Linked DNA regions of Homo sapiens. The protein of the gene in region 1 interacts with the protein of each later gene in a pairwise test. Each region holds a gene or a part of one and is shown on either strand. Other genes may lie near its edges.

Evidence for each region.
Region 2: the proteins of ZNF189 (region 1) and DLC1 interact in a two-hybrid assay, tested with the Homo sapiens proteins (one large-scale study listed by BioGRID and IntAct).

The regions. Positions count from the first base shown.
Region 1 is NC_000009.12:101,405,020-101,408,863, forward strand, and holds part of ZNF189 (zinc finger protein 189), read left to right. Parts: exon of another isoform or gene 1-2,279; coding exon of another isoform or gene 2,280-2,286; intron 2,287-2,392; coding exon of another isoform or gene 2,393-2,513; intron 2,514-2,909; coding exon 2,910-3,844.
Region 2 is NC_000008.11:13,508,338-13,512,181, reverse strand, and holds part of DLC1 (rho GTPase-activating protein 7), read left to right. Parts: intron 1-3,844. UniProt on the Homo sapiens protein: Functions as a GTPase-activating protein for the small GTPases RHOA, RHOB, RHOC and CDC42, terminating their downstream signaling.

The sequences.
Region 1 (3,844 bases):
GTGTTGAGGGACATTTAGTAAATGAGATATGTGAAGATAAGACATGAAAGACTGTAACACAAACAATTTGCCTACATAAAGTATGATAAAGTAGGTAGGAACATGACTTGAGGCTTAGAGACTGTGTCATGAAGAGTTGTATCATAGCAAAGAGCTTGATTCGATCTTAAAGGTGATGGGGAGCTGCTAAATCTACAGGTGATGACTTGAGTAGAATTCTGTTTTATAGAGATCTCTTCTAGAATCAGTAAGGCATATATAATGTGTTGGCAGCCTAAAGACTGGAGCCAAAGATTATAAGGCAGCTACATGATTGTGAGGGATGAAAGATAGGTGCTAGAGAGAAATCCAGGATTTGGATGATTGATTAACGTGAGAAGAAGGGAGAAATACAGGATGATTGCTGCTTTGAGACTATAGGGTAATGGATGATGGTGCCTTTCAAGAGATAATTAAAGGTGGGGAAAGGCATGAAAGCAGATGATGATGACCATGTTAATTGTGAGCCCTTTGTGAGGCATTTAACTGGAGATATCTGGAGGGTGTATATACAGAACAAGTAAGGATGTAAATGTGGGTAACAATAACAAAAGTCAGTTGACAAAGGAAAAGAAATAAATGAGGGAAATTTATCAGAAAAGGCCAAAGAAGTAGGGAAGGAAATAAAAGAATGTGGTAGTGTAGAAACCAAAAACAGATAATGTCAAGAAATAGGGGTGGTCAACAGTGTTAGATGCTGCTGAATAACATAAGGACTGAAACATGCCCATTTTAGGCCAGGCACGGTGGCTCACTTCTGTAATCCCAGCACTTTGGGAAGCTGAGGTGGGTGGATCACCTGAGGTCAGAGTTCGAGACCAACATGGTGCCCCATCTCTACTAAAAATGCAAAAAAATTAGCTAGGCACAGTGGCGGGTGCCTGTAATCCCAGCTACTTGGGAGGCTGAGGCAGGAGAATTGCTTGAACCCGCGAGGTGGAGGTTGTAGTGAGCCAAGATCACTCCAGCCTGGGCAATAAGAGTGAAACTCTGTCTCAAAAAAAAAAAAAAAATGCCCGTTTTATTTTTATTTGAGTCATTGGTAATCTAATGAGAAGTTTCTCTAGATGCTGGAAACAGAAACCAGATTTCGCCACAGGTTGCAGAATAGATTGAATAGGAAGAGGTTGGGCTTGGAAAACATAAGAAATAGAAAACCTCGGTGTTAAGATTTTTTTTCAATGCTTGGCTTTCATAAAGAGAAGGATTTCAGGTTCAAGATAAAATTGGACATATTTATGTAATGGTAGGAAAGTGTCAATAGAGAGTGTGTATTGAAGAAAGAGGAAAGACGGGATAATTAAGCAAATGCCCAGAGGTGAGTAGGATCGGTAAGTGATGGATGGATTAGCCTTGCATAAGAATCAGATATATCTTTATGTACCATTGGCAGATAATTTTATAGGTAGAGGACAGAAAGTTGAGGGAGTTCTTTCATGTTTTTTCATTATGTGAAAGAAAATACAGCCCACTGAAAAATTTGAGAGGGGACACTAAAAAGCCTTAGAAGAAATAAAATTTCTAGTAGTTTCTTAGGGGAATAGGAAAAGGTTATTTTAGAATAAAATAATGAAGTAAGCAAATAGAAAATTCAAAGATGACTCCACAAAAAATTGAGAGAAAAGAGGATGTATGAAAAAGGAGCTTGTTTAGGGCCAAATATAAATGTGGTCATTATTGAATCTTCTAGCGGAATTATCTAATATCTATTCCAGCAAGAGATGGAAAATCAGGAAGATGTCCGAAGCGGGCCTAGATGTACTATATGACACTCTGTTATATCATAGACCACTGTGCTGTCTTTTCTTCAACACATGCAAGATTTTCATTTCTCAGATGTCATGCAGCCTCTCAGTTGGAACAAGATGGTGAACCTTGGGTCTTATATTGTTAGAGGGTTTAGAATCACATGTACTTGAGGTATGATTTGTGGTAGGTAAAGTCATAAGCTACCACAGACTGCCCTTTTTGGTTGTTGCTCCCATGAACTCTGACCATGTTTCTTAATACTTATTTTATTCTGCATCTCGATATCATAGACTCTCTGTCACCTAACCCTTTATTATTGTTTTTAAAAGCCATTTTGTCTCTTTATACAGGAGCTGCTTTTTACTTAATATTTTCTTTATCATATTATTTTCTTTCCCCATTTTTTACTTAACATCCATTCCATTTGGCAGGGGGGCTTCATGTCTTATCTCTGAATCCTGGCTGATTACAATGTTTCTGGAGTGCTTTTGATGGGCAGTGAGTAAATGCTTGTTAATGAATGAATTATTGTTTCCCCTGGATCTTTGTCTTTTATCCTTCTTAGCATCTTTTTTTATTTTTATTTTTATTTTTTTGAGATTAGGTCTCACTCTATTGCCTAGGCTGGTGTGCAGCGACGCAAACACAGCTTGCTGCAGCCTCAACCTGTTGGGCTTAAGTGATCAATCCTCCCACCTCAGCTACCTGAGTAGCTGGGACTACAGGTGTGTACCACCATGTCTGGCTAATTAAAAAAAAATTTTTTTTTTGTAGAGATGAAGTCTCACTGTTGCCCAGGCTGGTCTCAAACTCCTGAGCTCAAGTGATCCTCCCACCTCACTCTCCCAAAATGCTGGGATTACAGGCATGAGCCACTATGCCTGGCCATTAGCATCTGGTCCCTTCTGTTAATTATTTGGTCTGATCATATTCCAATAATGCTTTCTCATCCTTAATTTTCTTGAACTTAGTGGAGTTTTTTTTCATCCTACCCTGTTTTCCTTGATAGACTGATTAATCCCACCTTGACTTTATTTGTTTCTTTGTTTGCCCATCTTACTTTGTTTCTCCTTGCTTCAAAGACCTTGGTTGATCTTTGTATTTCCTTTTTATTATTCCAGATGTTTTGAACAGAGATAAGGATGAGGAGCCAACTGTAAAACAAGAGATTGAAGAAATTGAGGAAGAAGTGGAACCACAGGGTGTAATAGTTACAAGAATCAAAAGTGAAATTGACCAGGATCCTATGGGTAGAGAAACATTTGAACTTGTTGGTAGGTTAGATAAACAAAGAGGGATCTTCCTATGGGAAATACCAAGGGAATCTTTGACCCAGGAACAGAGAATGTTCAGAGAAAACACTAACATTATCCGTAAAAGACCAAACTCAGAAGAGAAATGCCATAAATGTGAAGAATGTGGAAAGGGTTTTGTCCGCAAGGCCCATTTCATTCAACATCAAAGGGTCCATACTGGTGAGAAACCTTTTCAGTGCAATGAATGTGGGAAAAGTTTTAGTCGCAGTTCATTTGTTATTGAACATCAGAGAATTCACACTGGGGAAAGGCCCTATGAGTGTAATTACTGTGGAAAAACCTTTAGTGTGAGCTCAACCCTTATTAGACATCAGAGAATCCACACTGGAGAAAGACCCTATCAGTGTAATCAGTGTAAACAGAGCTTCAGCCAGAGAAGGAGCCTTGTTAAACATCAAAGGATTCATACAGGTGAGAAACCCCATAAATGTAGTGACTGTGGGAAAGCCTTCAGTTGGAAATCACACCTTATTGAGCATCAAAGAACTCACACTGGTGAGAAACCTTATCACTGTACCAAATGTAAGAAGAGCTTTAGTCGAAATTCATTGCTTGTTGAGCATCAAAGAATTCACACTGGGGAAAGACCCCATAAATGTGGTGAATGTGGGAAAGCCTTTCGATTAAGCACATACCTTATACAACACCAAAAAATTCACACTGGCGAGAAGCCTTTTCTTTGTATTGAGTGTGGAAAAAGTTTCAGTCGGAGCTCATTCCTTATTGAACATCAGAGGATC
Region 2 (3,844 bases), on another chromosome or scaffold:
TTCAACACTTCCTTTCAATGTCACCACACTCTACATTATTGGAATGAGAAATAAGTGCAGTAAAGTGGTGGCCCTTATAGCTGACTGCCTGATTCCTAGAAGGCCTAGTAAAAGATAGCACATCACTTCATTTTCTTCATAAGGACATTATAATTTAAAAAAAAGAATTTTTTCTCTCTCTGTCTATACCTACCCATACCATATAACTCACTACAAATACTTATGGGATGGTTTAATCTTATTCATAGAGTTTTAGATCTTACAGGCTTAAAATAGGTCAAAAATTGATCATTTGAAATTTGTCTTTTGTTTGTTTTTTGTTTCCTCTTGAAAAATGAGTGATGTCAGTGTTATAAAATGAGAATCACTCTTTAAAAACTATTACAGTATGGCAAAGTTCCAAATGACCAAGATCTAGATCAGGGATTTTATTATCAAAATAGAGACATGTCAAGAATTGCACATGAGAATTGGAAGAGGACAAGGGAACACTGAAAACTTTCAAATTTGAGGGAAGTAGTGTGAATATTGGGCCTGCTTTCCCCACACGAAAGATAAGCCCCTTGCATAAACAACATAGACCAAACAGAGTTACAGAGAAGAATGACTCTTGATTGACTTTGGTGTGATAGAGAAATACAGTGTTTACTTCTATGGTTCTGTTTTGGCTTTCAACTGATAGTTTACAGAGTTTTGATAAATAAATGGGCTAATTTTTAAGAAAGTTAAACAGAATAATAATGAATAAACTAGGACCTTGAGGCCCAGTTAAAAAAGATTGTTAATTTTGATTCAGTGGATTAGAGTATATAAATGAACTTTAAAAGATTAAACAGTGACTCAAATGCCAAAAAAAAAGGTGAAAGATAATGTAAACAGCATGCATATGAACTTGCTCATTAATTGAGATAAATGGGTGGAAAAGACAATTGCATGTGTGAAAAGGTTGTTTCTGTATTAGCTTGAAATAACAAAGTGTTTTAGCAATGCAATTCAAATAATTCAAAGAGAAAATCAGCCCTGTTAATGGAAATGAGATAGAAAAGAAGTAGGAAGATCAAACAGCAGGTTTAGATACTCAATTAGTGTTTCTTTTATTCCCAGCAATTAGCAAAATACCTAGCTTGCCAGGAATTATCAACACTTATTTGTCAATAAATGTTTGTGAAATGAATGGAAGGAAAAGCGAAGGAAAAAAAAAAGAAAGGAAAACCAGGGTTGAGGAATGGTAATGTGTGGGAGTTGGACTTCTTTCTTATTTTCCAGACATCCTGTAATAATAGAATAATAATTTCTAAAGGGGAAGGAAAATAAGAGGTTGGAAAGAGTCATCAGAGCCTGGGGCCAGAGGTTAACAACACTCTCATTAGATGACATTTCAAGTTCATTAAGCACCAGAAGGAAGCATAGGCATCCAGAAATGGTTTGAAATTAAAAGTTACATGAGGCCAGTGAGAACAGAGCACTAGTGAATTTTCCACATTTTAAATGGGGTGGTGTACCGAAAAAAATAATGGACAAAGTTAGAAAACTGGCTCTGATTTCCTCTTAACCACTTGACGCTCTGTGATTTGATGTTTGCCCCGTAACTACTTTGAGTTTCTGCTTTTTATTAGTAAAGTATGGGATTTCCAGGTCATGTTAGGCATTAGATGAGATTTCATGTGTGCAAATTGTTTTGCATACAGTATAATCAACAAGTCCTTGTTTAAAAAGGCATAAGTCAATTAATCAAGAAAGAATATGGGAGGCCAAGGCAGTCAGATCACCTGAGGTCAAGAATTCGAGACCAGCCTGACCAACATGGTGAAACCCCATCTCTCCTGAAAATACAAAAAACTTTAGCCAGGCATGGTAGCAGGCACCTGTAATCCCAGCTGCTCAGGAGGCTGAGGCAGGAGATCACTTGAATCTGGGAGGTGAAGGTTGCAGTGAGCCGAAATTGTGCCATCACACTCCAGACTGGGCGACAAGAGCAAAACTTCATCTCAGGAAAAAAAAAAAAAAAAAGAATAAAGAATAATTGTGTTTCACTCACATTTTGTTCTAATCACTCATCTATATTGAAATATCATGGACATAGAAGAGATAGTTTCAGCTCATACTCAGCCCTGGATTCTGCAGCTAAGATCAGTTGAAAGCTAAAGGAGTCATCATCACCATCACCATCACCATCATCATGATCAAGTCACTTTACATCTAGTGAGTGCTTGAAATGTGCCATGGACTAAGTGTTTTACATATATTATAATCTCATTGTTATTAACTCATTATCATTTTCCCCTCAACAGTTTTTTCATTATTCCCATTACAGAACTGAGAAAACTGAGGTACATAGAATTTAGGTAACTAACCCTAATCACCAGGGGGAAAAAAGTTATTTCACAGACATCCTCACAAAAATGGGAGACAATTCCTGCCCACCAGTATGTATTTGACACTGAGCTAGTTAATCAGTCCTGCCAAAATTCTTCCCTATCAAATTAATTAGAGCAATAATGGTATTTGTTTCATACAACATTTGTATTACTGCTAAAGGAGATAGCTTCTAAGTAACACACCGAATACAGTACTTGGCCCATAATAAGTGCTTAATTAATTGAAGGATGTTTTTACTATAATTATCATTATAAGTTTCTAATGCACTTAATATTTCTTAGGTATTAAGAAAAACACTTGGTGATAAAAATAAGCTCAAACATTTATAGGTAGATGACATAATTAAGATGAGATGATAGAGATGTATGGAAGACAAAAGTTGATAGCAGAGACATTGACCCCAGGTAGGACACCAAGCTAACAGAAGTAATTAAGTTCCTAATGACATCTTGTTCCTGATTTCAGTGAAAATTGTGCTTATGGAATGACTAAAAATGTAATTCCCTACTGTCAACTTGCTATCTGAGCACCTGGGTTGATGTAGCTATATCTGTTATTTACGCGGAGTGATTACTGTGTCTACTGTTGGAGTGTTCTTAGAAATGATAGCAAAGCTAAAAATAAAGTGACCACTTAAAGCAAAACCGCATCTCACCATGATGATGATAAAACATTATAATCCGTGTTCCTTGTTGAATAAAAATATCTTTTTATAATACAGCAAACCACATTTCAATCATACTGCTTTGCCATCAATAATAAAAAGGTCAGCCACACGTTTAATATCAACTTTAACCCTAGGCTATTTCCTGTTACATGAAAAATTTCAAGTGAAACAAGATCAGAGGAAAGGCAATACTTCTCTTTATTGTAAGAGGTTCTACAGAAAAGAGATATTATGGCAAAGAAGATAATTATTCATTAATGAATTTATTTGCAGAATTAATCTAAGGTACAATGTATTTGTAAATGCCCAAATTATTCTGCATAGGATCAAACAGTACTATTAAGAAGATTGCATACTTAAAAAAAAATAAAACATGGAGATCCAAATAAAACATAGATACTTAGAAATTACTACATCTGGCCGGGCGTGGTGGCTCACGCCTGTAATCCCAGCACTTTGGGAGGCCGAGGTGGGCAGATCACGAGGTCAGGAGATCAAGACCATCCTGGCTAACACAGTGAAACCCTGTCTCTACTAAAAATACAAAAAAATTAGCCGGGCTTGGTGATGGGCACCTGTAGTCCCAGTTACTGAGGAGGCTGAAGCAGGGGAATGGCATGAACTCGGGAGGCAGAGCTTGCAGTGAGCCCAGATCGCGCCACTGCACTCCAGCCTGGGCGACAGAGCGAGACTCCGTCTCAAAAAAAAAAAAGAAAAAGAAGTTACTACATCCATAAAGCAATATTGTCCCACATGGCTCTGTTAATTCTGGGATCTCCTAGAAACCAATATCCCCAG